Linked DNA regions of Homo sapiens. The protein of the gene in region 1 purifies or fractionates together with the protein of each later gene. This does not show direct contact. Each region holds a gene or a part of one and is shown in the gene's direction. Other genes may lie near its edges.

Evidence for each region.
Region 2: the proteins of MAP4K2 (region 1) and MPG purify together in Homo sapiens (affinity purification with mass spectrometry, with the first as the bait; one study listed by BioGRID). This does not show direct contact.
Region 3: the proteins of MAP4K2 (region 1) and CHLSN purify together in Homo sapiens (affinity purification with mass spectrometry, with the first as the bait; one study listed by BioGRID). This does not show direct contact.
Region 4: the proteins of MAP4K2 (region 1) and NKAP purify together in Homo sapiens (affinity purification with mass spectrometry, with the first as the bait; one study listed by BioGRID). This does not show direct contact.
Region 5: the proteins of MAP4K2 (region 1) and PYM1 purify together in Homo sapiens (affinity purification with mass spectrometry, with the first as the bait; one study listed by BioGRID). This does not show direct contact.
Region 6: the proteins of MAP4K2 (region 1) and DDX47 purify together in Homo sapiens (affinity purification with mass spectrometry, with the first as the bait; one study listed by BioGRID). This does not show direct contact.
Region 7: the proteins of MAP4K2 (region 1) and DNA2 purify together in Homo sapiens (affinity purification with mass spectrometry, with the first as the bait; one study listed by BioGRID). This does not show direct contact.

What each region holds. Positions count from the first base shown.
Region 1 is NC_000011.10:64,792,840-64,796,922, reverse strand, and holds part of MAP4K2 (mitogen-activated protein kinase kinase kinase kinase 2), read left to right. Parts: intron 1-29; coding exon 30-114; intron 115-209; coding exon 210-289; intron 290-369; coding exon 370-430; intron 431-532; coding exon 533-650; intron 651-4,083. UniProt on the Homo sapiens protein: Serine/threonine-protein kinase which acts as an essential component of the MAP kinase signal transduction pathway.
Region 2 is NC_000016.10:83,226-86,369, forward strand, and holds the end of MPG (DNA-3-methyladenine glycosylase), read left to right. Parts: coding exon 1-31; intron 32-2,160; exon of another isoform or gene 2,161-2,175; coding exon 2,176-2,552; 3' UTR 2,553-2,621; downstream 2,622-3,144. UniProt on the Homo sapiens protein: Hydrolysis of the deoxyribose N-glycosidic bond to excise 3-methyladenine, and 7-methylguanine from the damaged DNA polymer formed by alkylation lesions.
Region 3 is NC_000007.14:1,121,072-1,125,154, reverse strand, and holds part of CHLSN (protein cholesin), read left to right. Parts: intron 1-612; exon of another isoform or gene 613-4,083. UniProt on the Homo sapiens protein: Hormone secreted from the intestine in response to cholesterol, where it acts to inhibit cholesterol synthesis in the liver and VLDL secretion,leading to a reduction in circulating cholesterol levels. Acts through binding to its receptor, GPR146.
Region 4 is NC_000023.11:119,940,798-119,945,513, reverse strand, and holds the start of NKAP (NF-kappa-B-activating protein), read left to right. Parts: upstream 1-1,762; 5' UTR 1,763-1,908; coding exon 1,909-2,294; intron 2,295-4,716. UniProt on the Homo sapiens protein: Acts as a transcriptional repressor. Plays a role as a transcriptional corepressor of the Notch-mediated signaling required for T-cell development. Also involved in the TNF and IL-1 induced NF-kappa-B activation.
Region 5 is NC_000012.12:55,917,450-55,921,532, reverse strand, and holds part of PYM1 (partner of Y14 and mago), read left to right. Parts: intron 1-3,784; exon of another isoform or gene 3,785-4,083. UniProt on the Homo sapiens protein: Key regulator of the exon junction complex (EJC), a multiprotein complex that associates immediately upstream of the exon-exon junction on mRNAs and serves as a positional landmark for the intron exon structure of genes and directs post-transcriptional processes in the cytoplasm such as mRNA export, nonsense-mediated mRNA decay (NMD) or translation.
Region 6 is NC_000012.12:12,819,572-12,823,654, forward strand, and holds part of DDX47 (probable ATP-dependent RNA helicase DDX47), read left to right. Parts: intron 1-1,636; coding exon 1,637-1,825; intron 1,826-2,083; coding exon 2,084-2,155; intron 2,156-2,393; coding exon 2,394-2,512; intron 2,513-3,089; coding exon 3,090-3,161; intron 3,162-3,631; coding exon 3,632-3,748; intron 3,749-4,083. UniProt on the Homo sapiens protein: Required for efficient ribosome biogenesis. May have a role in mRNA splicing. Involved in apoptosis.
Region 7 is NC_000010.11:68,416,769-68,419,973, reverse strand, and holds part of DNA2 (DNA replication ATP-dependent helicase/nuclease DNA2), read left to right. Parts: intron 1-81; coding exon 82-171; intron 172-760; coding exon 761-940; intron 941-3,118; coding exon 3,119-3,205. UniProt on the Homo sapiens protein: Key enzyme involved in DNA replication and DNA repair in nucleus and mitochondrion.

The sequences.
Region 1 (4,083 bases):
CCCTCGCCAGCCTCTTGCCTCCTCTGCAGATGGGCGCCTGCTTCTCCAAGGTCTTCAATGGCTGCCCCCTGCGGATCCACGCTGCTGTCACCTGGATTCACCCTGTTACTCGGGGTAGGTGGGGGCAGGGAGGAAGCGGGAGCCCAAGGAATCCCTCAGCTTGGGCCAGGGGCCATGTCTGACCTCTGACCCCATGCCCAAACTGGCAGACCAGTTCCTGGTGGTAGGGGCCGAGGAAGGCATCTACACACTCAACCTGCATGAACTGCATGAGGATACGCTGGAGAAGGTGAGGCCCGGCTGGCTGTGGGGGGCAGAGGCCTTGTGGGGGCCTGGGGTGCTGACCATCTGTCCCTCTGTGGCCTCCAGCTGATTTCACATCGCTGCTCCTGGCTCTACTGCGTGAACAACGTGCTGCTGTCACTCTCAGGTACAAGGTGGGATGGGCAGGGAGGCAGGGTCCGCAGGGGCTCCAGCGCCTCAGCATCCTGCCCACCAACACCCCAGGCCTGGCCTCTTCCTGTTTCTGCAGGGAAATCCACGCACATCTGGGCCCATGACCTCCCAGGCCTGTTTGAGCAGCGGAGGCTACAGCAACAGGTTCCCCTCTCCATCCCCACCAACCGCCTCACCCAGCGCATCATCCCCAGGTCAGGGATCTTGGGCGTGCAGGGAGCGGGAGGCAGAGGGGCAGGGAGGGGCTGGAACATGGCCTTGCCAGTTCCTGGGATTGCAGCAATCTTAGACGTGTTGTCTCTCTGAGCGCCCGTTTCCTCCTCTGTCAATACAATTGATGGCCTTCCCACCCCCTCCCGCCGGCTTGTTGGGAGGCAAGAAGGAGACAGTGGATGTGAAAGTGCTTTCCAAGTTGTAGGAGCTGTGGTTGTTCGGATGTGGGGCTTGACAGTTAAGCAAACGTTTACTGAGCACTTATGCTATGTTGGCCCCTATGCTGGGCTTCGGGACATGGAGAATCCCATGAGTCCTCGCTTTCAAGAAATGGGGGAGATGGGCAAGTCCTTGCTTTCAAGGATTCCCATGAGTCCTTGCTTTCAAGGATTCCCATGAGTCCTTGCTTTCAAGAAACAGCGGGGCTGGGTGTGGTGGTTCATGCCTGTAATCCCAATCCTGTAATCCGAGGCAGAAGGATTGTGTGAGGCCATGTGTTTGAAATCAGCCTGAAAACACAGGGAGACCTTGTCTCTACAAAAAATCAAAAAAGTCTGGGCGGGGGGGCTCACGCCTGTAATCCCAGCACTTTGGGAGGCCAAGGCGGATGGATCACGAGGTCAGGAGATGGAGACTATCCTGGCTAACATAGTGAAACCCCGTCTGTACTAAAAATACAAAAAAAATTAGCCGGGCGTGGTGGCACATGCCTGTAGTCCCAGCTACTCGGGAGGCTGAGACAGGAGAATCGCTTGAACCTGAGAGGCAGAGGTTGCAGTGAGCCGGGATCACGCCACTGCACTCCAGCCTGGCCGACAGCAAGAGTCTGTCTCAAAAAAGAAAGAAAAAAAGCCCAAAAAATCAAAAAATGGGGCCAGGCGCAGTGGCTCAGGCCTATAATCCTAGCACTTTGAGAGGCCGAGGTGGGCGGATCATGAGGTCAGGAGTTTACGACCAGCCTGGCTAATATGGTGAAACCCCGTCTCTACTGAAAATACAAAAATTAGCTGGGTGTAGTGGTGCGCACCTGTAGTCCCAGCTACTCGGGAGGCTGAGGCAGAAGAATCACTTGAACCCTAGAGGCAGAGGTTGCAGTGAGTGGAGATTGCACCACTGCACTCCAGCCAGGGCGACAGAGTGAGACTGCATCTCAAAAAAAAAAAAAAAAAAAATCGAAAACTTAGCTGAGCATGGTGATGTAGGCATGGCGTTGTGTGTTGGTGGTCCCAGCCACTCAGGAGGCTGAGGTGGGAGGATTGCTTGAACCCAGGAGGTTGAGGTTGAAGTGAACTGTGATCGCGATCGTACCACTGCATTGAAGCCTGGGCAACAGAGCAAGACCTTGTCTCAAAAAAAAGAAAAAGGGAAATGTGGACAGTTAGCAGCCGGTACTGAGGTCCAGTTAGAGGGAGAGCTGGGAGGTGTGGAGAGGCCTCAGAGACCGGGCAAGCTTGGGAGGTTCGAAAGTGTGTCAGGGTTTCTAGGCAGGTGAGGTAGGGAATGGCACTCCAGGCAGGGGGAAGAGCAAGTATATGTTAGTATGTGTTGGGGCGGAGCAGCCTGGTGAGCTGGGGAGCTGTTAAGAGTTTGCCTGGGGGCCAGGCACAGTGGCTCACGCCTGTAATCCCGCACTTTGGGAGGCTTTGGCGAGTGGATCAACTGAGTCAGGAGTTCGAGACCAGCCTGGTCAACATGGCGAAACCCCGTCCCTAGTAAAAATACAAAAATTAGCCGGGCATGGTGGCGGGCGCCTGTAATCCCAGCTACTCGGGAGGCTGAGGCAGGAGAATAGCTTGAACCTGGGAGGCGGAGGTTGCAATGAGCCGAGATCGCACCATTGCACTCCAGCCTGGGCAACAGAGCAAGACTCCGTCTCAAAAAAAAAAGAAAAACAGAAGAGAAAAACAGTCAGATTCTGATTCTCTTTTGCAAGTTGAGCCAGTAGGATTTCCTGATGAAAGAGAAAGAGGAGTCAAGGATGGCTCCAAGGTTTTTGGCCTGGGTGTCAGGAAGAATGCAGCTGTCATCAGCTGAAGGTGGAGCAGTTTCAGGGGGAGCTGAATTCAATTTTGTTGCATGAACATGCTTATTAGATGTGCAAGTGGGACCTGCGTCAGTCCATGGCTTGGTGGGGCTGGGCTCTGAAGGGAGGGGCCCTGGGCTATGGGCCCCCGACATTGTCATGACCAGGTGGGTGGTGTGGGAAGCAGTGGACTGAGTGCAGAGGGTAGGGGAGGCCAGGCCAGTGGCTGCAACAGCTGGGGAGCTCAGGAGCCCCCTTCCTGCAACGTGCTCACTCCAGGACCACATCTGGAGCCCGGTGGCCTTGGGGCTTCCTGAGCTCAGTCCCCAAGTGAGTCTGCTTTGGCGCAGGACCTACAGGAAACAGGCCCATCAGAGCCCCAACAGGTCACAGGCAGCTTTGAGCTTGTGTTCGGGAAATGGCAGAGGCACAGTGAGCACTTTGAATGCAAAGAACAGAGAACTGGAGTTGTTTGGAGAAAAAACAAATACAAAATATATGCTTTTGTCCCATCCAAAGACCAGATGGGGAGGAGAGTGGGAGGAATGTGGGGAGAGGGAGGGACGAGGACCAGGGACAGTGAGAGACAGACATTGGCTTCCTCCATGTCCTGGCAGAAGGTACAAACAGGACATGGGCCACTGGGTGGAGGTGGCAGGGCTGCTGACAGGAAGCCCCATTCCCCAGAGGAAGAAACAGGCTGAGAGGGTCCCCTGGAGGGTTAGGGGACACTCAGTGGCCAAGGCAACGGCCCCTCTGATAACTTTTCCTCACTACTTCTACCCCGACAGCAAGGCAAGCCACCCCCTGGCCCCACAGGGCTGTTGCCTCTGCTGGAGAAGCAGAGGGCAGGCCATTTGCCTTTTGAAGTTCATTCACTGCCCCGGGCCTGTTTTCCCATCTGTGAAATGGGCCGTGTGCAGTCTGTGCAACCTGGTGGGGCTGGAGCCTGCATCCTCCCCAGCCCCTCCATGCTCTCATTTCTTCATTCCTTTTTTCTTTTTCTTTTTTTTTGAGACCGAGTTTCACTCTCATTGCCCGGGCTGGAGTCCGATGGCACAATCTCGGCTCACTGCAACCTCCGCCTCCTGGGTTCAAGCAATTCTCCTGCCTCAGCCTCCCAAGTAGCTGGGATTACAGGCACGCGCCACCACGCCTGGCTAATTTTGTATTTTTAGTAGAGACAGGGTTTCTCTATGTTGGTCAGGCTGGTCTCGAACTCCCGACCTCGGGTGATCTGCCTACCTCGACCTCCCAGAGTGCTGGGATTACAGGCGTGAGCCGTTGCACCTGGCATCATTTCTTTCTTTATACCCTGCCTTTACCTGACAAGGACTTTCAGTGACTCAAAATAGGTGGAAAGTCCTAATATGGGATGATAGGAGCTGGCC
Region 2 (3,144 bases), on another chromosome or scaffold:
ATGTACTTCTGCATGAACATCTCCAGCCAGGGTGAGCAGTGCTGGGGCACGGGGGGTTGGAGGGCCGGCAGAGCCCTGTCCGCTAGCAGCCAGGGGACCACTAGGAGGACTGAGGTGGGGCCAGCATTTGAGCGAGGAGGTGCCACTTCCAGGCCAGGCCAGGGTTTCGGGAGCTCTGGCTACGCTGACGGGGCAGGGCTGGTTAGGTTAAAGGGGTAGAAAGGGCCGGGTGGGGCCGGGCGCGGTGGCTCACGCCTGTCATCCCAGCACTTCGGGAGGCCGAGGCGGGCGGATCACCTGAGGTCAGGAGTTCGACACCAGCCTGGCCAACACGGTGAAACTCTGTCTCTACCAAAAATACAAAAATTAGCTGGGTGTGGTAGTGGGCTCCTGTAATCCCAGCTACTAGGGAGGCGGAGGCAGGAGAATCGCTTGAACCCGGGAGGCGGAGGTTGCAGGGAGCCAAGATCGCGCCATTGCACTCCAGCCTGGGTGACAGAGCGAGACTCCATCTCAAAAAAAAAAAAAAAGGAAAGGAAAAGAAAGGGTTGGTTGGAGTGGAGGCAGAAAGAAGGCCGAGGACACAGTGTCGCCTGCCCTTGACGGAGGCAGCACATGAGGATGAGAAGCTGATTGGAGAAGAGGATGACTGCAGTGCTAAGAGCAGCGTGGTCAGGTTGCCAAGGATGGAGCAGTGGGCACAGCAGGGGGACTTAGGGTCGGCGGAGGAGTCGGTGAGGAAAGGGAGGTTTGGCAGGAAGTGATCAAAGGGGTCATGTTTTTGTCAGGATGTGGGACTTGGATGTGTTCTGTGTGAAGGAGCCAGGGCACGGGGCTGTGGTGATGAGGGCGGCCAGGCTTTGACTCATTTGCAGGCGGCTCTGTGGGGGCTCAGTGAGACAACGAGGGGCGTGTGCCCTGCACCCACAGGGATGTAGAGGGTCCTGCTCCTCCCTACTGAGGTGGGTCAGGGTGGGCAGCAGGCACCCCACCTGGTGAGCTGGAAGCAGCGTGGGAATCACAGAATGGACGGGAACTTAAAGGCTTTGCTTGGCCTGGATTTTATCTTGAAATACTTTTGACAGCTGGCTGGTTGAGGGTATCTGCTCACAGGAACGCCGCATTTGCTGGCTTTGTCCACTAGTGCTCGCCCCTGGCTGCTGATGCGGAGCCTCACGTGGCCGCAGCCCAAGAGTAGGGACTGGCTTGGCCACCTCCAGGCTAAGCTTCGGACTCCCAGGTGGCTGGGAGGGCCAGGGGTGCACAGGTGCATCAGAGCAGGTGCTGCCTTGCTGGAGGGCCAGGGCTCTTCTGGCCAGGGTCCAGGTCATCATTGTCCCCAGCCAGGAATCCAAGGGGCCTTTCCAAACCTGCAGGGCAGAGGGAATTCGGGTATCTGTGCTTGAGTGAGCCCCTGGGCCCAGGAGCCTTCGCTTGCTGTCTCTGTTTCTCAAGGGGCCTGGCCTGGTGAGGGAGGGGGCTAGGCTGGAGGAGGGATCCCAAGGGAGGTGAGGGGGCTTTGTCAGCCTCCTCCTGCCCTGCCTGTGCAGGGTGTTGCAGTCAGTCCTTCCACTGAGTCATTGCATGGGCTCTCCCAACATCCGGTGCACACTGGCAGCTGCTCTAAGCCAACTCCTAGCCCCCACCACTTGACCAACACAAACACTGAGTGGGTGAGGCAGAAGGGGAGCGCTGGGGCCTGGCTAGGCCAAGGCTTCCTGCTTCCTGGCTGAATGATCGCACCCGAGGACTGGCTCTCTGGAGCTTCCTTTGCTGGCTTTATAGCTGCTGCCAGTCACAAGACCAGGGGAAGCCAGGTGGAAAGGAACTGATACCCAGCATTTGTCATGTGTTTTTAACAGTCTGGCTTTGTGGGGGCGGCCACAGTGGGGGAGGCCCTGCCTGGTGGTGGAAGCCAGAGGTGCCCACAGGAGGCACACCTCATGGTGCAGGCTTGGAGGATGGCAAGGTAGGCAGAGGGGTCTGGACACAGTGAGGTGCAGCCCCCTCCCACCAGGTCAGACCCAGGAGATGGTGCAGGTGCACAGAGCAGGTCCCTGGCCCAGGCAGGAAGGCAGCTGCACCCTCCCTGCAGCACAGGATGTCTGGATGTGTACTAGGGCAGAGAGGACAGGAGCCTAGGGAGGCTCCACTTCCAAACTGTCCGTCCCACAGGGGACGGGGCTTGCGTCTTGCTGCGAGCACTGGAGCCCCTGGAAGGTCTGGAGACCATGCGTCAGCTTCGCAGCACCCTCCGGAAAGGCACCGCCAGCCGTGTCCTCAAGGACCGCGAGCTCTGCAGTGGCCCCTCCAAGCTGTGCCAGGCCCTGGCCATCAACAAGAGCTTTGACCAGAGGGACCTGGCACAGGATGAAGCTGTATGGCTGGAGCGTGGTCCCCTGGAGCCCAGTGAGCCGGCTGTAGTGGCAGCAGCCCGGGTGGGCGTCGGCCATGCAGGGGAGTGGGCCCGGAAACCCCTCCGCTTCTATGTCCGGGGCAGCCCCTGGGTCAGTGTGGTCGACAGAGTGGCTGAGCAGGACACACAGGCCTGAGCAAAGGGCCTGCCCAGACAAGATTTTTTAATTGTTTAAAAACCGAATAAATGTTTTATTTCTAGAAAACTGTGCCTTAGCCAGAGCTCCTCTAGGTGATCAACCCATGTCTGGAGCTAGCTCTTCCTCCAGGACACGAGAGCTGGGGGCCTGAGTACGTAGCGCCAGGCCCGGTGTGGATGCTGGGGAGAATCATCAGTGTGGGAGCCGAAAGCCCCCGAGGGTGGGGTCCTGCACAGTGGGCCATGCCTCCACCAGCAAGATGTGCACAGGTGACAGGGCTTCTCCAGCCTAGCAGGGCCAGCCCAGGCCCTCGTGCCCCAGATGGTCAGGACCAGGTCACAGCTTGGCTATGAGCCTGTTTGCGGCTTCTGTGGACTGTGGTGAGGACTGGGCCAGGAAAGGCTCAGGGTAGCCTGGGAGGAAGAAGCGCATGGCAGACAGAGGTGCTGGGGAGGGGGCCACAGGGCACTTCACAAATAGAAGGCTGTCAGAGAGACAGGGACAGGCCACACAAGTGTTTCTGCACATTCTTCAGGGTGGCCACAGACTGGGGGGTCCAAGGAGCAGGTGTAGGGACAGAAGGAGGGTC
Region 3 (4,083 bases), on another chromosome or scaffold:
CCAATGAGGCAGTGCTGAGCTCTCGGAAGGTGGTGTGAAATCACGTCCACCACGTCTGTGGCTGCAGGCGGCTCAGCAGGCGTGGGTGGAGGGGAGAAGCTGGGGTGTGTGCCTAGAGGAGCTCCTGGCTGTCTCAGAGGGTCGTCTCTCACTGCCACCCCCCGGGCGAGGGAAGCCAGACAGCACCCCAAGCACAGCCAGACAGCTTGTCCTGGGCTCTCTAGCAGAACACCCCAAGGTCACCCGGAGGCTGAGGCCTGGCAGGTGCAGAGGTCCTGCGGCTCCCGCGCAGCGGGTCAGCAGGCAGCCCCGCGTTCCACCTGAGCCTCACCTTGAATTTCGGCTCCTCCTCCGCAGGCTGTTGAATTCCTGTGTCTCCCAGGCTGACTGCCTCTTTTTTTTTTTTTTTGTGCTTTTTTAAAATTTTTTTTATTTTTTATTATTATACTTTAAGTTTTAGGGTACATGTGCACATTGTGCAGGTTAGTTACATATGTATACATGTGCCATGCTGGTGCGCTGCACCCACTAACTCGTCATCTAGCATTAGGTATATCTCCCAATGCTATCCCTCCCCCCTCCCCCCCCACCCCCCGACTGCCTCTTACTCACTCCTTCTTCACAGCCTGAGGTCCAGTTGTGCTTTTTAGTTTGGGTTCCAGATGGACGCTGGTTTCCCGAGAGCTGCTGGAGCTCTTGTTCTGTGGTTCAGCCCAGTCTCAATTCCGCAGAGCCTCAGGCACACACGACTTTGGTGGGCGCGGCGTCACCCTGGACTTTTTGAGTTGAGTCAAGAGGCTTCTGGCTCTCCCTTCTTGGTGAACCCTCCTCCAGCCAGATCCCCACACAGGCCGCTGGTCACTGGCAGCACCCCCAAGACAGCTCGGCTTACGGTGACTGTGGGCAGAGGTTAAAACTCCTGCCCAAGTGAGGGAGTGGTGTCTGTCCTTTTGTTTAGGTTCAAGTAATTATTTTAAAGTATGTGATTATTTTTCATTATTAAAATACGTGTTGATTAAAAGAAAGCTGGAAAGCAAGAGGGGAAAGAAGAAAGCCTTTGTTTCCTCCAGCTACGCTTTGAGGGCTGGACTCTGCTGGTCTGTAACACGCAGCTGCCGGCAGAGTCACCAGCTTTCACTTGGCTTTCCGGCCACTGGCGTGGAGTTGGTCTCAGGCCCGCCCAGCTGAGCGTTGGGAAGCGACCTGGAGCTGGTTCCTTAGCCTTTGGAGGAGCTGGCAGCGGGAAGAGGGCCTGGGAAGCCAGGGAATGCGGTCTCGGTGGAGCCCGGTTCACCAGCAGGGGTCGGCAGCACGTTCCTTCCGAGGGAGCTGGCGGAGGGAGCTGCCTTCAGCTGGATTCTCTGCAAACTGCATGCCCCTGTGGCCAGTTTCCGGGCTACTGGGAGGGTTTTCAGATGGAGTGTGGGGGCTCAGGGGCTCATGTTCTTGTATGTCTGGGAGCCAGTCTCCCAGTGAAATGGGGTGTCTCTGCTAATATGGATATTTCCTTGCTGACTCTCCCTGGTTCTCATGGGAAATTGTTTTAAAAAAAAAAAAGTTTCAAGCGTTTTGTGAAGCTGAACCCAAGTGCTTAGGAGGGTGGGCGGCTGGGCCTGGGGAGCAGCATTCCTGGGCTCCGGGGGAGCGTGTGGAAAAGTACTGCGCTGCTTCCCTCCCCTCCCCCAGTGGATCCTGGATGAACCTCCGGAATCCACCATCGAGGATGGAGAAGCCTGTGTCCCCCCGTGGGCCATTGTGTTGTCCTCCCAGCAACGTCCGTCTGGGGAGCCTGCGGGTCAGCGGCCACTCCCGGGGCCCCGTGCAGCCTCTTCCCACAGCATGAGCACTCTGAGCTTGCGCCAGGATCGCCGCCACGTCCCCAAGTGATGGGAACTTCATCGCCCCTTGGGGAGTGTTCCTTCAGCGTTCCGGTTCCCACTCAGGCCTGTGGGCTTGGCCCGGGAAGCCTCCTGGGCCGGGTGCACTCACTCTCCCAGGCTTCAGTCCCTGGTGCCTCTGTCTGGCGTTGGTGAGGTTTGGCCGTTCCTCGGTCCTGGGCACCAGGGCCTCAGGGTCTCGGCTCTGGGTGTTGTTTGCTGAGCTCCCCATCCCGGAGGGCCCTGCTGGCCTGGAGTGCTGGGGAGGTGGGCGGCTTGTGGTGGCCCGGCAGGAGGAACAGTTGCTCCCATGGGCCTGTCTCGTGTCTTGGTGACTGGGCTGTATGATTGCCCACTGGTCTTAGGAGGGACTGGCACCTGCCGCTTCTGTCCTCCTCAGCTCTGCGGGCAGGAGGTTCTGCCGCTGGGGTTGGCGCCTTGGGCCTTTCCTCTTGTGGACCAGAGGGGTCCCAGGGTTTGCCCTGTCTGCTTCCTGTTTCATAGCTAAGCCCTCCCCGGGGAGCTGGGGTTTAGGAGTTCTGTTTTCACGTTCCTTTAACCCTTCCAGGCCTGGTTTCCCACTTGAGCGGGTTGTGAGGATGAGGTTTCAAATGACACATGTCCTTCGGGAGGACTGTGGGGCCCCGGCTGAGCCAGGCCTGCTGCCCAGCATCCCTTGGGGTCGGCGGACATGGTGGGAGGTCATGTGACTCGGCAGGTCTTTCTGTCTTTCACCCTCCCCCTGCCTCTCCAGTCTCACTAAAGGGGACCCTTAGCTTCTCTGTTTCTGTCTGAAGCCACGGAGCCGTATGCGGGGGAAGGCGGCATACGCGTGACCACCCCATGCAGAGCCAGCCGAGTGGCTGCTGGTGTGGAGGCCCCTGTGATGACCTGGCCGCCTCCCTGCTGCTGTCAGTGCTGTTTGGCTGCCTGGAAATGGAAGGTGGGCTCCCTCAGTCCACTGCTGTCAGCATGTCAGCAGAACCCCCCTGGCTTCCTCTGCCTCGTAAGAATCCCTTATGTGTGCAACACTTTCCGTCCCCACGAGCATCTTGACAGCTGATTCTTAGCAGCCTGGAGGTGCCAGGGGCAGAGGCGTGGGTGCTGTGCTGGTTTCAGTCACCTGGCCAGCTGGTCCTGGGGAAGAGACTCACCCCTGGTTTCTGACTCTGGTTACCTCATGGAGCCCACTAGCAGAGACCAGGATCCCTTCCTGTGGCTGGCTGCGAGCCGGCGGAGCCTCAGTCGAGGGCAGGGTCCATGTGTCAAGGTGCCGTGTAAGGACCATGAGGGCTCAGACAAGGCCTCGGGTGTGTGCAGCACGCTGCCCTGTGTGAGTGCAGTGGGTGGGTGCAGCACGCTGCCCTGTGTGAGTGCAGTGGGTGGGTGCAGCACGCTGCCCTGTGTGAGTGCAGTGGGTGGGTGCAGCACGCTGCCCTGTGTGAGTGCAGTGGGTGGGTGCAGCATGCTGCCCTGTGTGAGTGCAGTGGCCACAGAAGGCTTCGTGGGCCACAGTAAGCCCAGGGTACCATGTTCCCAGGTGCAGTCTTTCTGGCCCTGGGTGTTTCATGGTCTTGGCTGTAAACCCGTCTGGCGTGACCGCCTGGCTGTGGGGCTTGCGCCTCGCACAGCCAGAACGCGGGGCACAGGTGGTGGTCAGCGGAAGGGAGCAGGGCTACTTGGCTTGAACCGGCGTGTAGAGGCTCTGGATTTGCTGCTTTTGTAATCTTGAAAATCAGTGTGTATTACTAGAGCATGAAGACCGCAGCTTTATAAAACCATCAAATGAGGCCGTGAACTTCATGGCCTTGAGAATTTGCTCTGATCCAAAATACTTAAGACCAATGGTATTTTGCCCCAAGAAGCATTACTGCCCTGGCAGTGGGATTGTGTGTCATTGAACTCTTGGGGCTGAGTGGTGGCTGGTGTCTGTGGAGGCTCCCTGGGAGCCCGAATTGTTTTTCTTAGTAGAATTCCACCCACCCCCACCACATTGTTTTTATTTTCTCCTGTCTGACTGCTGCATGCCGGGTTGTCTGCCGACTGAATTTTGAACTCATACATGTACAGGGCTGAAAGGCAGGTGGAACCTGAGGAACAGTCTTACGTGTGGGGGAACTGAGACCCCGAGAACTTGTGTGGTCTCCCTGAAGCCCGCGTAGGCAGCGGGAGGCCGGCTCCCTCCTTCATCCCTGCCGGCCACGCT
Region 4 (4,716 bases), on another chromosome or scaffold:
ATTTCCGGGCTCAAGTAAGTGTTCCTCCCACCTCAGTCTCCTGAGTAGCTGGCATGCACCACCACACTCGCCAAATTTTTAAATTTTTTGTAGAGACAGGGTCTCCCTATGTTTCCCAGGCTGGTCTCCAACTCCTGGGCTCAAGTGATTGGCCCGCCTCGGCCTCCCAAATTTCTGGAGTTACAGGTGTAAGTCACCATGCCCAGCCCCAAATTCAATGTTTGATATTGACAGCATGGTAGAGTGAGAGTACACTATTTTTTTTTGGAAACACAGTCTCACTCTGTTGCCCAGGCTGGAGTGCAGTGGTGCAATCTCACTCTCGGCTCACTGCAACCTCAGCCTCCCGGGTTCAAGCGATTCTCGTGCCTCAGCCACCCTAGTAGCTGAGATTACAGGCACGTGCCACCAGGCCCAGCTAATTTTTGTATTTTTAGTGGAGACAGGGTTTCGCCATGTTGGCCAGGCTGGTCTCAAACTCCTGACCTCAAGTGATCCACCCGCCTCTGCCTCCCAAAGTGCTGGGATTACAGACGTGAGCCACCATACCAGGCCGAGAGTACACTTAACAAAAATGTATTGTGCTCAGATAATGGACACCTTAAATACCCTGACGTCATCACTACACATTATATACATGTAACAAAATTTCACATGTATCCCATAGATTTGTACAAATTTAAAAAATAATAAAAAATTAGCTGTGCATGATGGCACATGTCTGTAATCCCAGCTACTCAGGAGGCTGAGGCAGGAGAATCACTTGAACCTGGGAGGCGGAGGTTGCAGTGAGCCAGGATAGCCACTGCACTCCAGCCTGGATGACAGAGGGAGCCCTTGTCTCAAAAATAAAAAAATAAAAAATAAAATGACACTTTTTGGGGAAAAAAATACAAGCCAGACGCAGTGGCTCACACCTATAATCCTAGCACTTTGGGAGGCCGAGGCTGGCGGATCGCTTGAGCCCAGGAGTTCAAGACCACCTGGGCAACAAGGTGAAACCCTGTTTCCCCCGACCCCCCTCAAAAAAAAAACTACCCAGGCTTGGTGTCGCATGCGCCTGTAATCCCAGCTATTCAGGAGGCTGAGGTGGGAGGATAGCTTGAGCCCGGGGAGGCGGAGGTTTGCAGGGAGCTGAGATCTTGCCACTGTACTCCATCCTGGGCGACAGAGTGAGCAGAGTGAGTTCCAGTCTCAAAAAAAAAAAACCTCCTTTTGCTGGGGCATATTGGTGGAGACGGTGGCTAGGGGATAAGTATGCAGTTTTTCTCTAGGCGGGAAACTTAATTGAAGTTTATCAGGCGCGAGTCATTAACAAAATTTGCGCCCTCTAAGCTAACACGGCAATATGGGGCTTAGACACCATAGCTAATCCCCAGTCGCGAAAAACCCTCCCGATTTGCTTGGGATTGGAAAGAAAAAGAAAATACACATTCATACTTTCATACATGACATACACACACACACACACATTTATATATAAATACACACAGAAAGCACAGGAAACACAAGCAGAATTAACTGTCTTGTTCATACGGCCACTCAGTGAAATGTATACTGTATATTGTGTTTGAAATATATACTTCCCTTCAAGTGTTTCAAGTTCAAGGCTGAGAAAGAACTTGGTCTCTTGCTTAGACTTGAGGAGCCTCACTCGGAACTGGAAGGATGCACGCAATCTAGTTGCCCCACCGGCTTATTTATATTGATGCACACATCGCTTCCTGTCGGTGACGACCGCCTAGATCCGGGGAAGGGTTTTGCAGAAGTACCCAGAACTGTGTCCAAGGTTTCCTCAGATTTGGGCTGTTCCGCAGCGGCAGGTCCCGGGAACCAAGGCAACAGACATCTTCCTAGGCTCGCGAGAGCGCCCCCTTGTCCCACGGCTGCTGGGGCCCCCCAGTAGCCATGGCTCCGGTGTCCGGCTCACGCAGCCCGGATAGGGAGGCCTCGGGCTCGGGGGGAAGACGTCGCAGTTCGTCGAAGAGTCCGAAGCCCAGCAAATCTGCCCGCTCCCCGCGGGGCCGCCGCTCTCGCTCGCACTCTTGCTCTCGGTCCGGGGACCGGAATGGACTCACCCATCAGCTGGGTGGCCTCAGCCAAGGCTCCCGAAACCAGTCCTACCGCTCACGCTCGCGGTCGCGTTCTAGAGAGCGGCCCTCTGCGCCCCGGGGCATCCCCTTCGCTTCTGCCTCCTCGTCAGTCTATTACGGCAGCTACTCGCGCCCCTACGGGAGCGACAAGCCTTGGCCTAGCCTCCTCGACAAGGAGAGGGAGGAGAGCCTGCGGCAGAAGTGAGTGAGACGGCCGCACTTTCTCTTGTACGAGCCTACGTGCCTTTGGAGTCCGATCTATCATTCATTCCGCTTCTGACTATTCGCATTTCGCTCACTCTGCTTGCCTTGCGCCCATTTTCATCCCTTTCTTTAATCCACCCACGACAACCCTTTATTCGTCCTTTTCATTTTCCCTTACCCTCAGGCCCCTTCATATAGTGCCCTGGTCTCCCGCTACCCCCTTCCGCCTCCTGTCTTGTTAGCGAATATTGCCGAGAGTTCAGACCTACCAGAACTGTAGCATTTACCTGGTTGTGTCATTATCATTCGTGAATATATTTGTATTCCCCACTAGACTGAGCTCATGGAAAGGAGGAGCCAGTGAACGGAGGAGAATTCTGATCACAGAATTCTAAGTGCCTGGTACTTTATAGGCGCTCAACCATTGCTTGTTGAATGAAGGAACTTACAGGTCTGAGATAACAGGATATTTATGTAGAAACGTTTTGTGGGGAATTAGGAAGGAATGAAATCAAGGGTTTAAGTTGGAGAGGAAATAAACCTTCCCCTCAGACAAGACGATTAGATGCATGTAGGAAAAGTGATCTGATAAGCTATAGATGACCCCACTTTGAGGAAGGTCTTGTTAAGTGGTCTCAGTCTTGACCTCGAAAAATGACGCCAGGATGAGACTAGATCTCTAATCAAAGTGAGTATTGGAGTGGAAAAATGCATAGCTTGGGGATTGTTTTGTTTTGTTTTTGAGACAGGGTCTAGCTCTGTCGCCCAGGTTGGAGTGCAGTGGTGCAATCTTGGCTCACTGCAGCCTCCACCTTCTTGGGCTCAAGTGATCCTCCCACCTCAGCCTCCCTCATAGCTGGGACTATAGGTGCGCACCACCACACCCGGCTTATTTTCGTATTTTTTGGTAGAGACAGGGTTTCACCATGTTGCCCAGGCTGGTATCGAATTTCTGGGCTCAAGTGATCCTCCCACGTTGGCCTCCGGAAGTGCTGAGATTACAGGTATGACCCCACATGCCCTGCCGAGCCTGTCCTTTTCATCACTATACTTTATTACCTCCCACTGCCGGAAGAAAAAGACTCAAGACATCTCCCAACTGTTGGAACTTTAACCTACCTCTCAATGCCTGTAATATTTCTAAGTTTCTCATTTTTTTAAACATATAAGTGCACGTAAATAACTTAGTACAGTGCCTGACACATAATTTAACAATAAACAAGATATTAAGACTTACACAGCAATAATTATGAGCCTTTTCCTTTCTCCTTAAAACTATGCATTTTTTGGCTGGGCACAGAGGCTCATGCCTGTAATCCCAACACTTTAGGAGGCCAAGGCAGGAGGATCACTTGAATCCAGGAGTTCAAGACCAGCCTAGGCAATATAGGGATACCCTGTCTCTACAAAAAGTGTTTTAAAAATCAGCTGGGCGTGGTGGCATGTGCTTGTAATTTCAGGTACTGGGGATGCTGAAGTGGGAGGATCACTTGAGCTGGAGAGGTCAAGGCTGCCATGAGCCATGATCTCACCACTGCACTCCAGCTTGGGTGACAGAGGGAGATGCTGTCTCAAAAACAAACAAACAAAAAAAAACAAAGAGAAGAACAGGAAGAAAGAAAGGAAAAGGACAAACTCCAGAATCAGACTGAGTATGAAGCCTTTATTTGCCACTTAATAGCTGTGTGACCTTGGTCAAGTTACTTAACCTCTCTGGGCTCCATTTCTTCATCATTAAAAGGGGGATAAAATAAGTACTATGGATTAAAAAGGGGATAAAATAAGTACTAGGGATTTGGGGATTGTAATAATTAAGTGGCTGGAACATAACTATTCCATAAGTGTTAGCTATTAATGTTTCATGCATGGGAGCAAAAACAGTAAAAACAGTCCTGAGTTAGGTTGGAGACCCATCTCTCCAAGTTACATTTTTCAGAAACATACCCACAGGCTATGTCAGTCAAAAAGTAAATAGTTTCTTCTTGGAGAATCCTCACCAAAAGATGTCAGAAGTGCTTGGATGAAACTTGCATATGTACATTTAGAAAATAAATAATTTATCTTTTTTTTTTTTTTTGAGATGGAGTCTCACTCTGTCTCCCAGGCTGGAATGCAGTGGTGCAGTCTCGGCTCACTGCAGCCTCCACCTCCTGGGTTCAAGTGGTTCTTCTGCCTCAATCTCCTGAATAGCTGGGATTACAGGTATGCACCACCACACCCAGCTAATTTTTGTGTTTTTAGTAGAGACGGGGTTTCGCCATGTTGGCCAGGCTGGTCTCGAACTCCTGACCTCAGGTGATCCACCAGCCTCAGCCTCCCAAAGTGCTGGGCCCGGCCAATAATTTATCTTAACATTACAGATGAAACCAGGTGACAACAGGACTTCCTGCTATTTACAGCCTGGTAGGCGTTCTTCCCC
Region 5 (4,083 bases), on another chromosome or scaffold:
TTTATTTATGGGAGTTTTATTTTTTTATGATTATTTTTATTATCATCTTTTACTTCTCTCTTGCCCTCCTCATGTATATCAGTTATCAAAATATCATTCTTTTATTCCTACTGCTGTTACCCTTATCCCATCTACAGTACTTGTTAGCTATATAGCCTTGGGAATCTAAGTCTTAGTTTTCTCATCAATGAAATTGGAATAACTCCTGCAACACAGGATTATTATGCGTATTAAAATTTAAATAAAGTAATTTACATGTTTGGCACATAAAAAGTGTCCAACACATTGTTCTATAATTATTACTATTATGTAAGGGTCATTGTATGGGTTAGAAGAAATTACTATATATGGCCAAGTACCAGGCATAGTACTTGGGCCATTCCAAGTGCCTGCTAAAATTCTAGTTTCTGTTGTTCTGCAAATATTACTGTGACCTCCTAAACTGGTCATCGTATTTCCAGTCCCTCTCTTGTTTCATTTCTACAGATACACTGCTACCAGATTACTGCTTCTTAAGTGCAAATTTAGTTATGTAATTTTTGTTCAATATTAATTCATCAACCCAGAGTCTGCTGTTATATATGGCATATATCTTTCTAAACTGTTTTAAACATAGCAGAACCAGATGGTATATACATTTTTATATCTTGCCTTTTCATTTAGCCTTATGAGGTAAATGTTTTTCCTTGCTATTAAAAACTCTGTAAACATCTTTTAAAATACTGGCAGAGTGTTTTATAGTTTGGGCATGCACCCTATCTTACTTTCTTCTGTTATTGGACTTTTAGATTGTTTTCAGAATTTTTATTATAAGAACACTAGAATGTTTTTGTGCATGCATCTTTTTCGGCATTTAGGGTTATTTTCTTTTTCTTTTTTTTTCTTTTTTTTTTTTTGAGACGGAGTCTCGCTTTGTCACCAGGCTGGAGTGCAGTGGTGCGATCTCTGCTCACTACAATCTCCACCTCCTGGGCTCAAGTGATTCTCCTGCCTCAGCCTCCCGAGTAGCTGGAATTACAGGCATGCACCCCCACTCCCAGGTAATTTTTGTATTTTTAGTAGAGATGGTGTTTTACCATGTTGTCTAGGCTGGTCTTGAACTCCTGGCCTCAAAGGATCGCCCACCTTGGCCTCCCAGAATGCTAGAATTACAGGCATGAGCCACCGTGCTCGGCCTGATTTTTTAAATTATCTGTAAGATGAGGTCTTGCTATGTTTCCCAGGCAGGTCTCCAACTCCTGGGTTCAAGTGATCCTCTCACCTTGGCCTCCTGAAGTGTTGGGATTATAGGCATGAGCAACTAGTTTTTCTTTTCCTTTTTTTTTTTTAAAGAGACAAGGTCTTGCTCTGTTGCCCAGGTTAGTGTACAGTGGCACAGTCATAGCTTGCTGTAGTCTTAACTGTTGGGGTCAAGCAATTCTCCTGCCTCCTCCTCCTGAGTAGCTGGTACTAGTACTACAGGCATGCGCCACCATGGCTGGCTAATTTTTGAATTTTTTTATAGAGCTATGTTGCCCAGGCTGTTCTCAAACTCATTTTCACAAGCAGTGCTCCCACCATGGCCTTCCAAAGTGGTGGGATTACAGGCATGAGCCACTGCACCCAGCCTAGTTTTTCTTTTTTCTTTTTCTTTTTTTTTTGAGACGGAGTCTTGCTCTGTCTCCAGTCACCCAGACTGGAGTGCAGTGACGCGATCTCTGCTCTGCCAACTGGGCTCAAGCTATTCTGCCTCAGCCTCCCAAATAGATGAGATTACAGGCACGCACCACTATGCCCAGCTATTTTTTTGTATTTTTAGTTAGAGATGGGGTTTCACCGTGTTGGCCAGGCTGGTCTCGAACTCCTGACCTCAGGTGATCTGCCTGCCTTGGCCTCCCAAAGTGCTGGGATTATAGACGTGAGCCACCATGCCTGGCCCCCAGCCTAGTTTTTCTAAGCACATATGCATATATAACATTAAGGTAAAATGACATATTTTGAATTATACTGTTAAGATTGGCTGTTATTTTCTAAAATATGAATCCTTGAAACACCTAGTAATCTTCTGAGATGTGACACAAAATAAATAACTAAAATAGAGGCCGGGAGTGGTGGCTCACGCCTGTAACCTCAACACTTTGGGAGGCTGAGGCGGGTGGATTGCTTGAGCCCAGGAATTCGAGACCAGCCTGGGCAACATGGCAAAACCTCGTCTCTACTAAAAATACAAAAAATTAACTGGGTGTGGTGACACACACACTCCTGTAGTCCCAACTACTTGGGAGGCTGAGGTGGGAGGAATTGCTTGAGCCTGGGAGGTGGAGACTGCAGTGAGTCAAGGTCCAGCTATTGCACTCCAGCCTGGGTGACAGTGACCTCATCTCAAAGATAAATAAAATAAAATGCAAATAATGTTTCTGTGCACAAATTTTGAGAAACACTGTAAACCATATTCCCATCTTGCATATGTACCTGAATAAGAACATAGTAACTCATTTAAGCCTTGCTGTTAAAAAAAACAAACGCAAAATCTTTTTTGGTGTTTAACCCAGAATTTCCCAAACTTATTTAACAATTTTTAGGGATAACCCCTGTTTAATATCTTATGGGAGTAGTATTTTACATAACAAAAGCTTTGGGAAATGTGATTAAATGATAGGACTACCTTTTTTATTTTTGTTTTTTTGAGATGGACGCTTGCTCTGTCGCCCAGGCTGGAGTGCAGTGGTGCAATCTCGGCTCAGTGCGACCTCTGCCTCTCAGGTTCAAGCGATTCTCCTGTCTCAGCCTCCCAAGTAGCTGGGACTACAGGCACGTGCCACCACGCCCAGCTAATTTTTGTATTTTTAGTAGAGACGGGGTTTCACCGTGTTGGCCAGGCTGGCCTCAAACTCCTGACCTCAGGTGATCCACCCGCCTTGGCCTCCCAGTGCTGGGATTACAGGTGTAAGCCACCATGTCCAGCCTAATTTTTAAATTTTTTATAGAGATGGAGGTCTTACCATCTTACCCAGGATGGTCTTGAACTCCTGGGCTCAAGTGATCCTCCTACGTCAGCCTCCTAGTGTGCTGGGATTACAGACGTGAGCCACCATGCCTGGCCTATTTGTTGATTTCCATTTTTATTTTAGATTTAGAAAATGTGCAGGTTTGTGGTTGGGCGCAGTGGCTCACGCCTGTAATCCCAGCACTTTGGGAGGCCGAAGCGGGCGGATCATGAGGTCAGGAGATTGAGACCATCCTGGTTAACACGGTGAAACCCCATCTCTACTAAAAATACAAAAGAAACTTAGCCGGGCATGGTGGCGGGCACCTGTAGTCCCAGCTACTCGGGAGACTGAGGCAGGAGAATGGCGTGAACCCGGGAGGCGGAGCTTGCAGTGAGCCGAGATCACGCCACTGCACTCTAGCCTGGGCGACAGAGCGAGACTCCGTCTCAAAAAAAAGAAAAAAAAAAAAAAGAAAATGTGTAGGTTTGTTACATGGGTATAATTATGTGATGCTGAGGTTTGGGGTATGAGTGATCCCATCACCCAGATAGTGAGCTTAGTACCCAATAGTTAAGTTTTTTTTTTGTTTGTTTGTTTGTTTTTTGTGATGGAGTCTTGCTTTGTTGCCCAGGCTGGAGTTCAGTGGTGTGATCTTGGCTCACTACAACCTCTATCTCCCGGGTTGAAGTGATTCTCCTGCCTCAGCATCCCAAGTAGCTGGGATTACAGGCATGCACCACCATGACCGGCTGAGTTTTGTATTTAGTAGAGTTGGGGTTTCACCGTGTTGGCCAGGCTGGTCTCCAACTCCTGACCTCAGGCGATCCATCTAGCTTGGCCTCCCAAAGTGCTGGGATTACAGGCGTGAGCCACTGTGCCTGGCCCCAGTAGATAGTTTTTAAACCCGTGCCCGCCTCTAATAATCCCCAATGTCTGTTGCTGCCATCTTTATGTCCGTGAGTACCCAGTGTTTAGCTCCTACTTATAAGTGAGAACATGCAGTATTTGGTTTTCTGTTCCTGTGTTAATTTGCTTAGGATAATGGCCCTCAGCTGCATCCATGTTGCTACAAAGGACATTATTTTGCTCTTTATGGCTGTGACAGACTACTTTT
Region 6 (4,083 bases), on another chromosome or scaffold:
TTAGACATACCTCCAAATAATTATGCCCAACTGGTTTTTAGACATATCTCTAAACAAGTATGTCCAACTGGTTTTTAGACATATCTCTTTGAGTTTACTATAGGAATCTTAAGTTCCAAGTTCCCTGTGTGGAAACCAAAGTCCTTATTTTCCTCACCAGGACTAATTTTTCTGTTGCCTATATTGCAGTTTTTGGCTTTTGAGTGTCCCGTACTAAAAATGTGTGAGTCACCCACATTTCCTTTTGTTAGTTTCTGAATCTCATTCCTGTGCTCATTCCTGGCCTCAGTTCAGGCCACCATCATATCTCCCCTGAATTACATCCAATGTCCCAGTTAAGCCTTTGTTTTCCCTGTTCTGGTCATTTAAGTCATTTCTGATTGTAAGTCATGTTCAGGTTATGTCAGGGAAAAGAGATTTGTTTATTGTAGGATTATCTTCTAGGTAAAGAAAACTTCTCAGCAGTTACACAGTCAGAACAGGGGCAGCAACTGTAGGGGTCATGATTTAATAGGGAGCATTCTCACTGGCCACTGTGGTAGTGCATAGCTACCTCATGGGCTACAGCCAGCTCGGAGATAGTGATCTCAACTCAGGAGTTAATTTCCAAGTCTTATGAGTTGTGGCTTGAGTGGTGATAGCAAACAGTGGTGACCTGTTCTTAAAGAATTACTTAGAGCATTCTTCCCTCAGAAGGAGCAGTAACTGGCATGCACTGTTAAGTTCCTTGGCTCCTCCTTATGCCATCAGGTCTAGAGTTTATCTTCCTAAACAGTAATATTGATCATGATATTCCCTGTTTAAAATCCTTTAATTCTTTCTTATAGGAAAACATCAAAACTCTAGCCTCATTCTTCCCTCTTTCTCCCTTAACACTTCTGTGTTCCAGCCACATTGTACTTCTCAGCCTAACTATGCATGCTATGTTCTTTTTATTTTTTGAGATGGAGTTTCGCTCTTGTTGCCCAGGCTGGAGTGCAGTGGCACGATCTCCGCTCACCGCTGCCGCAACCTCCGCCTCCCGGGTTCAAGCAATACTCCTGCCTCAGCCTTCCGAGTAGCTGGGATTACAGGCATGCACCACCATGCCCGCCTAATTTTGTATTTTTAGTAGAGACAGGGTTTTTCCTTGTTGGTCAGACTGGTCTCGAACTCCCAACCTCAGGTGATCTGCCTGGCTCGGCCTCCCAAACTGCTGGGGTTACAGGCGTGAGCTACCATGCCCAGCCAGCATGCTATGTTCTCTAAAGCCTTAATTCTCTTTCCTCTTACAGGAATATCCTTTCTTCCCTTCTTTGCTTACTTCCAGTTTTAACTCACTTATCACCTCTGTTAGCCTTTTCTGACTCTTCTGGGCAGTAGTTACTTTTCCTTGTGTTCTCGCTGTATTTTGCAGGGGCTTATATTAAAACTCTTATCACATTATAATGCATTTGTATATTTGTCTGTCTCACCACTGGGTTTTGAGCTTATCTAAGAGAGAGGCCATGTCTTTTCTGTTTATTCAACTTTCCTCTCTCCCCAGTTCATCAGATATTTATTAAGCGTCTACTTTGTGCCCAGCATTGTGTCATTGTAGAAAACACAGAAATAGCGCAAAGAGATTACTTGGCTGTTGAATTTCTTTTTCTTTTAGGTCGTGATATCATTGGGCTTGCAGAAACTGGCTCTGGAAAGACAGGCGCCTTTGCTTTGCCCATTCTAAACGCACTGCTGGAGACCCCGCAGCGTTTGTTTGCCCTAGTTCTTACCCCGACTCGGGAGCTGGCCTTTCAGATCTCAGAGCAGTTTGAAGCCCTGGGGTCCTCTATTGGAGTGCAGAGTGGTAAGTGTCTGAGAGGGAAGGGATCCTAGGTTGCCATCACAAGTGAAGAATGAGTGTGGAGGAAGGAGAATGGAGGAAAGTATTGCTAGCATAATTTATTGACCTAAAGAGCTAATGTTGTATTTGAGCTTTGGGAAGAGTATTAATTGTAAGGGAAGAACAAATCTAAGTAGAAATCTGGCATTGGCTTTAAAAGATGTTCAGTGGACTGTGGAAAAAATTAAGGATCTCGTCTCTATGTTCTTTTTTTCTCTGTAGCTGTGATTGTAGGTGGAATTGATTCAATGTCTCAATCTTTGGCCCTTGCAAAAAAACCACATATAATAATAGGTGAGTAACTGACAAAGGTAAAAGACACTGGCAGTGATGAATTGGAGAAAATCTACCAGTGTTGGATAGAAAGACTTTGAGAAACAGATTTTGTAACCCTGTTAAATTTTTTAATTTCTTAAGTTAAATTTGGTGGAGAGCTGTGGGGTGGGGCAGATAACTTTATTTGTTTATTTGTTTTGTTTTTTTTTTGTCCTGTTCTGAAATGTCACTGTTTCTCCTCAACCTTTCTTGGTAGCAACTCCTGGTCGACTGATTGACCACTTGGAAAATACGAAAGGTTTCAACTTGAGAGCTCTCAAATACTTGGTCATGGATGAAGCCGACCGAATACTGAATATGGATTTTGAGACAGAGGTGAGCTCTCAATTTCTTTCCTCCTCTTAGAGCATCTCAAGGTTCCTGTTTCAAAATTTGGTTCATTGCCCACTTGTTTCATGTAGAACATTGCATTAGTATCAGTTTCATTCTTGATATTCTTCAAATTGCAGTTTCTCAGCACCCTTTTATCTTTAGAATATAGTCTGACTCTGACTTCAGAAATGGGAAATATCAAAACCGGATTTTCTTTTCCCTTTCGTTTAATTTAGACCTTGACATACACCCTGAAATATCTTTATTTTCTTTGATGACCCACTAATCCCAGCTTACTTAGTTGATTAATACTTTTTCTTGACTTTTCTCTTAAATCAGCTCTGGTCTACTAATTTAAACTGTTCTTTTCTCAGAAAGGTATTTTTTTTAATAGTATTTGGTAGGGTATCAGATAGTAAATATTCAGTAAACTTTAGCTGAATCAAATTGAATTTTCGAGTCCCAAATCTTCACAGTGATATATTTAGTTTGTTAGTGTCTACCTCCTTCACTACCTAGAGGATTTGCAGCTCTTCCAGTCTGAATATCATATTGGCATCTTTTCCTCTTTGTGCTTTAGGTTGACAAGATCCTCAAAGTGATTCCTCGAGATCGGAAAACATTCCTCTTCTCTGCCACCATGACCAAGAAGGTGAAATTTGCTAGGACTTTTGTTTCTTCTTTATGAGAATTGATACATAAAGTAAATAGTAATAACAATAAGGAAAAATAAATTGCTTTAGTCCGTTTTCACACTGCTATAAAGAACTATCTGAGACTAGGTAATTTATACAGAAAAGAGGTTTAATTGACTCACAGTTCCACATGGCTGGGAAGACCTCAGGAAACTTACAATTATGGCAGAAGGTGAAGGGGAAGCAAGGCAGGAGGTGGGGGCAGTGCCACACTTTAAAACCATGAGAAATTGTGAGAACTCACTATCATGAGAACCGCAATGGGGAAAACCACCTCTGTGATCCAATAACCTCCCACCAGGTCCCTCCCGTGACATGTGGGGATTACAATTCAACATGAGATTTGGGTGAGGACACAGAGCCAAACCATGTCATAAATAAAGAGTGTTTAGGCATCAGTGTGCTATTCTGGATCTTCTTCCTTCAGGTTCAAAAACTTCAGCGAGCAGCTCTGAAGAATCCTGTGAAATGTGCCGTTTCCTCTAAATACCAGACAGTTGAAAAATTACAGCAATATTATATTTTTATTCCCTCTAAATTCAAGGTAAAATGTTTACTTTGATCATTCCTGCCTCTCCCTCTTCTTTTCACCAAAGCATCTGAAAATGTGTCAACTCTTGATTAGGTAAGAGCTGTAATGCAGATTGGCATCCTGTCTGTTTGCTTTAGAGTGCATATCGTGCTTATATTATCACCGATAAGCCAGACATGCCAGGAATTCACAACACATTAAATCACAATACTGAGGTCATGATGTAATCATATAATTCCTTCCCATCCCCATCCTTGAGGTAATTTTTCCTTTGTCTGCTTATTATGTGGCTTTTATTTAGGATGAAGCCCCTGGTTTTGTGCTTTGATATAAGGACTTCTCCTGTT
Region 7 (3,205 bases), on another chromosome or scaffold:
TATAGTCTTTATGGCCAGTTGCGTACTTATAGTACTCTTTAGAGATTGTATTATCAGCAGGCTGTATATTTTTCCACTTAGGTTCCAGCGCCAGAACAAGTTGAAAAAGGTGGTGTGAGCAATGTAACAGAAGCCAAACTCATAGTTTTCCTAACCTCCATTTTTGTTAAGGTAATTTAGAATTTTCAAGGCTAGCAAATATTAAAGTGCAGAATAAAAGAATGTTAGACTGTAAGACACTTACAATCTGGCATTAAGTCTCGTTTATTAAGATAAGGGGGGGATTGAAGCCCCATTGTTTTTATTTTGAGAAAATGTATCTAAGACATGTAATATTTTATAATGACATTTGGAGTTTTCATTTACGATAATAACTTTTTGTAATGTCAGCTAATTCTAATTGAGACAATACTATGTTGTAGTGATTAGGAATTGGAAATTTTTCTGTGAAAGAAATAGCAGAAGGTGAAATGTATTTCTTTGTACTGTGTGTGTGTGTGTGTGCACTGTTTTAGTAGCATATAATCCTTTACGTTCTCATGAAACTAAAAATTAAGGGAGCAATGTCTAAGGAATTATTTCATCCTGGGAAATATGGACAGATTTAGAGCAAATTCAGTAATTGTATTCAGTCTTTGAGATAGGAAAGTTTGTTATAAACATCAGTTGGGCACATAATGTAAACATTTAATTATTAAATTCAGAAAAGTTTAACTTAATCAGGATTTCTTTCTTTTAAATTGTGTCTTTTTCTATTTAGGCTGGATGCAGTCCCTCTGATATTGGTATTATTGCACCGTACAGGCAGCAATTAAAGATCATCAATGATTTATTGGCACGTTCTATTGGGATGGTCGAAGTTAATACAGTAGACAAATACCAAGGAAGGGACAAAAGTATTGTCCTAGTATCTTTTGTTAGAAGTAATAAGGATGGAACTGTGAGTTAATTGTGTTTGCTACTGATTCATTTGGGGCATTTCTCTCTCTTTAAAAATTGTGGGCCGGGCGCGGTGGCTCACACCTGTAATCCCAGCCCCCTGGGAGGCCAAGGCGGGTGGATCACCTGAGGTCAGGAGTTTGAGACCAGCCTGGACAGCATGGCGAAACCCTGTCTCTACTAAAAATACAAAAATTAGCCGGGCGTGGTGGCAGGCGCCTGTAATCCCAGCTACTTGGGAGGCTGAGGTAGGAGAATTGCTTGAACCCAGGAGGTGGAGGTTGCAGTGAGCCGAGATCGTACCATTGACTCCAGCCTGGGCGACAGAGCAAGACTCTGTCTCAAAAAAAAAAAAAAAAAAAAAATTGCGGTTTAACATTGAGAACATGTGGACACAGAGAGGGGAACAACATACACCATGGCCTTTAGCGGGTTGGGGGTGAGGGGCGGGAACCTGGTGGATGGGTCAACAGGTGCAGCAAACCGCCATGGCACATGTCTACCTATGTAACAAAACTGCACGTTCTGCAGATGTATTCTGGTTTTTTTTTTTTTTAAAGAAAATAAAATTGTGGTTTAAAAGAACACATAAAACATACATCTTACTTTTTTTTTTTTTTTTTGAGACGGCGTTTCCTCTTGTTGCCCAGGCTGGCATGCAGTAGTGCGATCTCGGCTCACTGCAACCTTCGCCTCCCAGGTTCAAGTGACTCTTCCGTCTCAGCCTCCCAAATAGCTGGGATTACAGGCATCGCCATCTTGCCCGGCTAATTTTTGTACTTTTCTAGAGATGGGGTTTCACCATCTTGTCCAGGCTGGTCTCGAACTCCTGACCTCAGATGATCCACCTGCCTTGGCCTCCCAAAGTGCTGGGATTCCAGGCGTGAGCCACTGTGCCCAGCCCATCTTACCATTTTTAGGTGTACAGTTTAATTAGTGTTGAGTGCATTCACAGTGTTGTTCAACAGATCTCTGGAACTTTTTCATTTTCAAATCTAAAACTCTGTATTCATGATTAACCACCCATTTTCTTCTTCCCCAGCACCTGTAACCACCATTCTACATTCTATCTCTGAATTTGACTAATCTAAGTACCTCATATAAGTAGAATCGTACAGCATTTATCTTTTTGTGACTACCTTATTTCACTTAGCCAGCTAGTTCATCCTGTTGTAGTATGCGACAGGATTTCCTTCCTTTTTAAGACTGAATAATATTCCATTGTCTCTATATACCACATTTTATTTATCCATTCATCTGTCAGATGGAATGGTTGCTTCCACCCCTTGGCTGTTGTAATTGAGGCCTGTTTAATATAAAATCTTCCTTGTATACTTTCAAATTTATAGACAATTCAGATTTGATTTTTTTTTTTTTTTTTTGAGATGAGATCTGGCTCTGTTACCCAGACTGGAGTGCAATGGCACAATCTCGGCTCACTGTAATATCCACCTCCCTGGTTCAGTGATTCTCCCATCTCAGCCTCCTGAGTAGCTGGGATTACAGGCATGCGCCACCATACCCAGTTAAGTTTTGTATTTTTTGCAGAGAGCCATGTTGCCCGGGCTTATGGGCAACTCCCGAGCTCTAGCAATCCTCCCACCTTGTCCTCCCAAATAGTGTTTTTTTTTTTTTTTTTTTTTGGTTTTCTTATTTTTACCTCTCCTTAGTTCATTTTTCTCAACTGTATAATACATCCATATGGTTTTAAAATATACGTAATAAAAGGTTTCCTTTGTACTCCATCCCTCATCTACTCAGTTCTTACCTCAGATAGTCTCCTTTTTTTTTTTTTGAGAGGCTAGGTCAGAGTGTGGAGGCATGGTTATGGCTCACTGCATCCTTGACTTCTGGGCTCAAGCAGCCCTGGCTCAGTGATCCTTTCATCTCAGCCTCCTGAGTAGCTGGGACCGTAGGTGCACACCACCACGCCTGGCTGATTTTTGTATATTTTGTAGAGATGGGGTCTCACTGTGTTGCACGGGCTGGTCTTGAACTTCTGGTCTCCAGTGATCCACCTGCCTCGGCCTCCCAAAGTACTGGGATTACAGGCATGAGCCACTACACCTGGCCTCATTCTATTCTTAAATTTGCACAGGTGTCCATTGTGTAGGGATGTGTTGTAATATATTTAACCATTCCTTTGAACTTGAATAATTGAAAATTATATTTCTTACAGGTTGGTGAACTCTTGAAAGATTGGCGACGTCTTAATGTTGCTATAACCAGAGCCAAACATAAACTGATTCTTCTGGGGTGTGTGCCC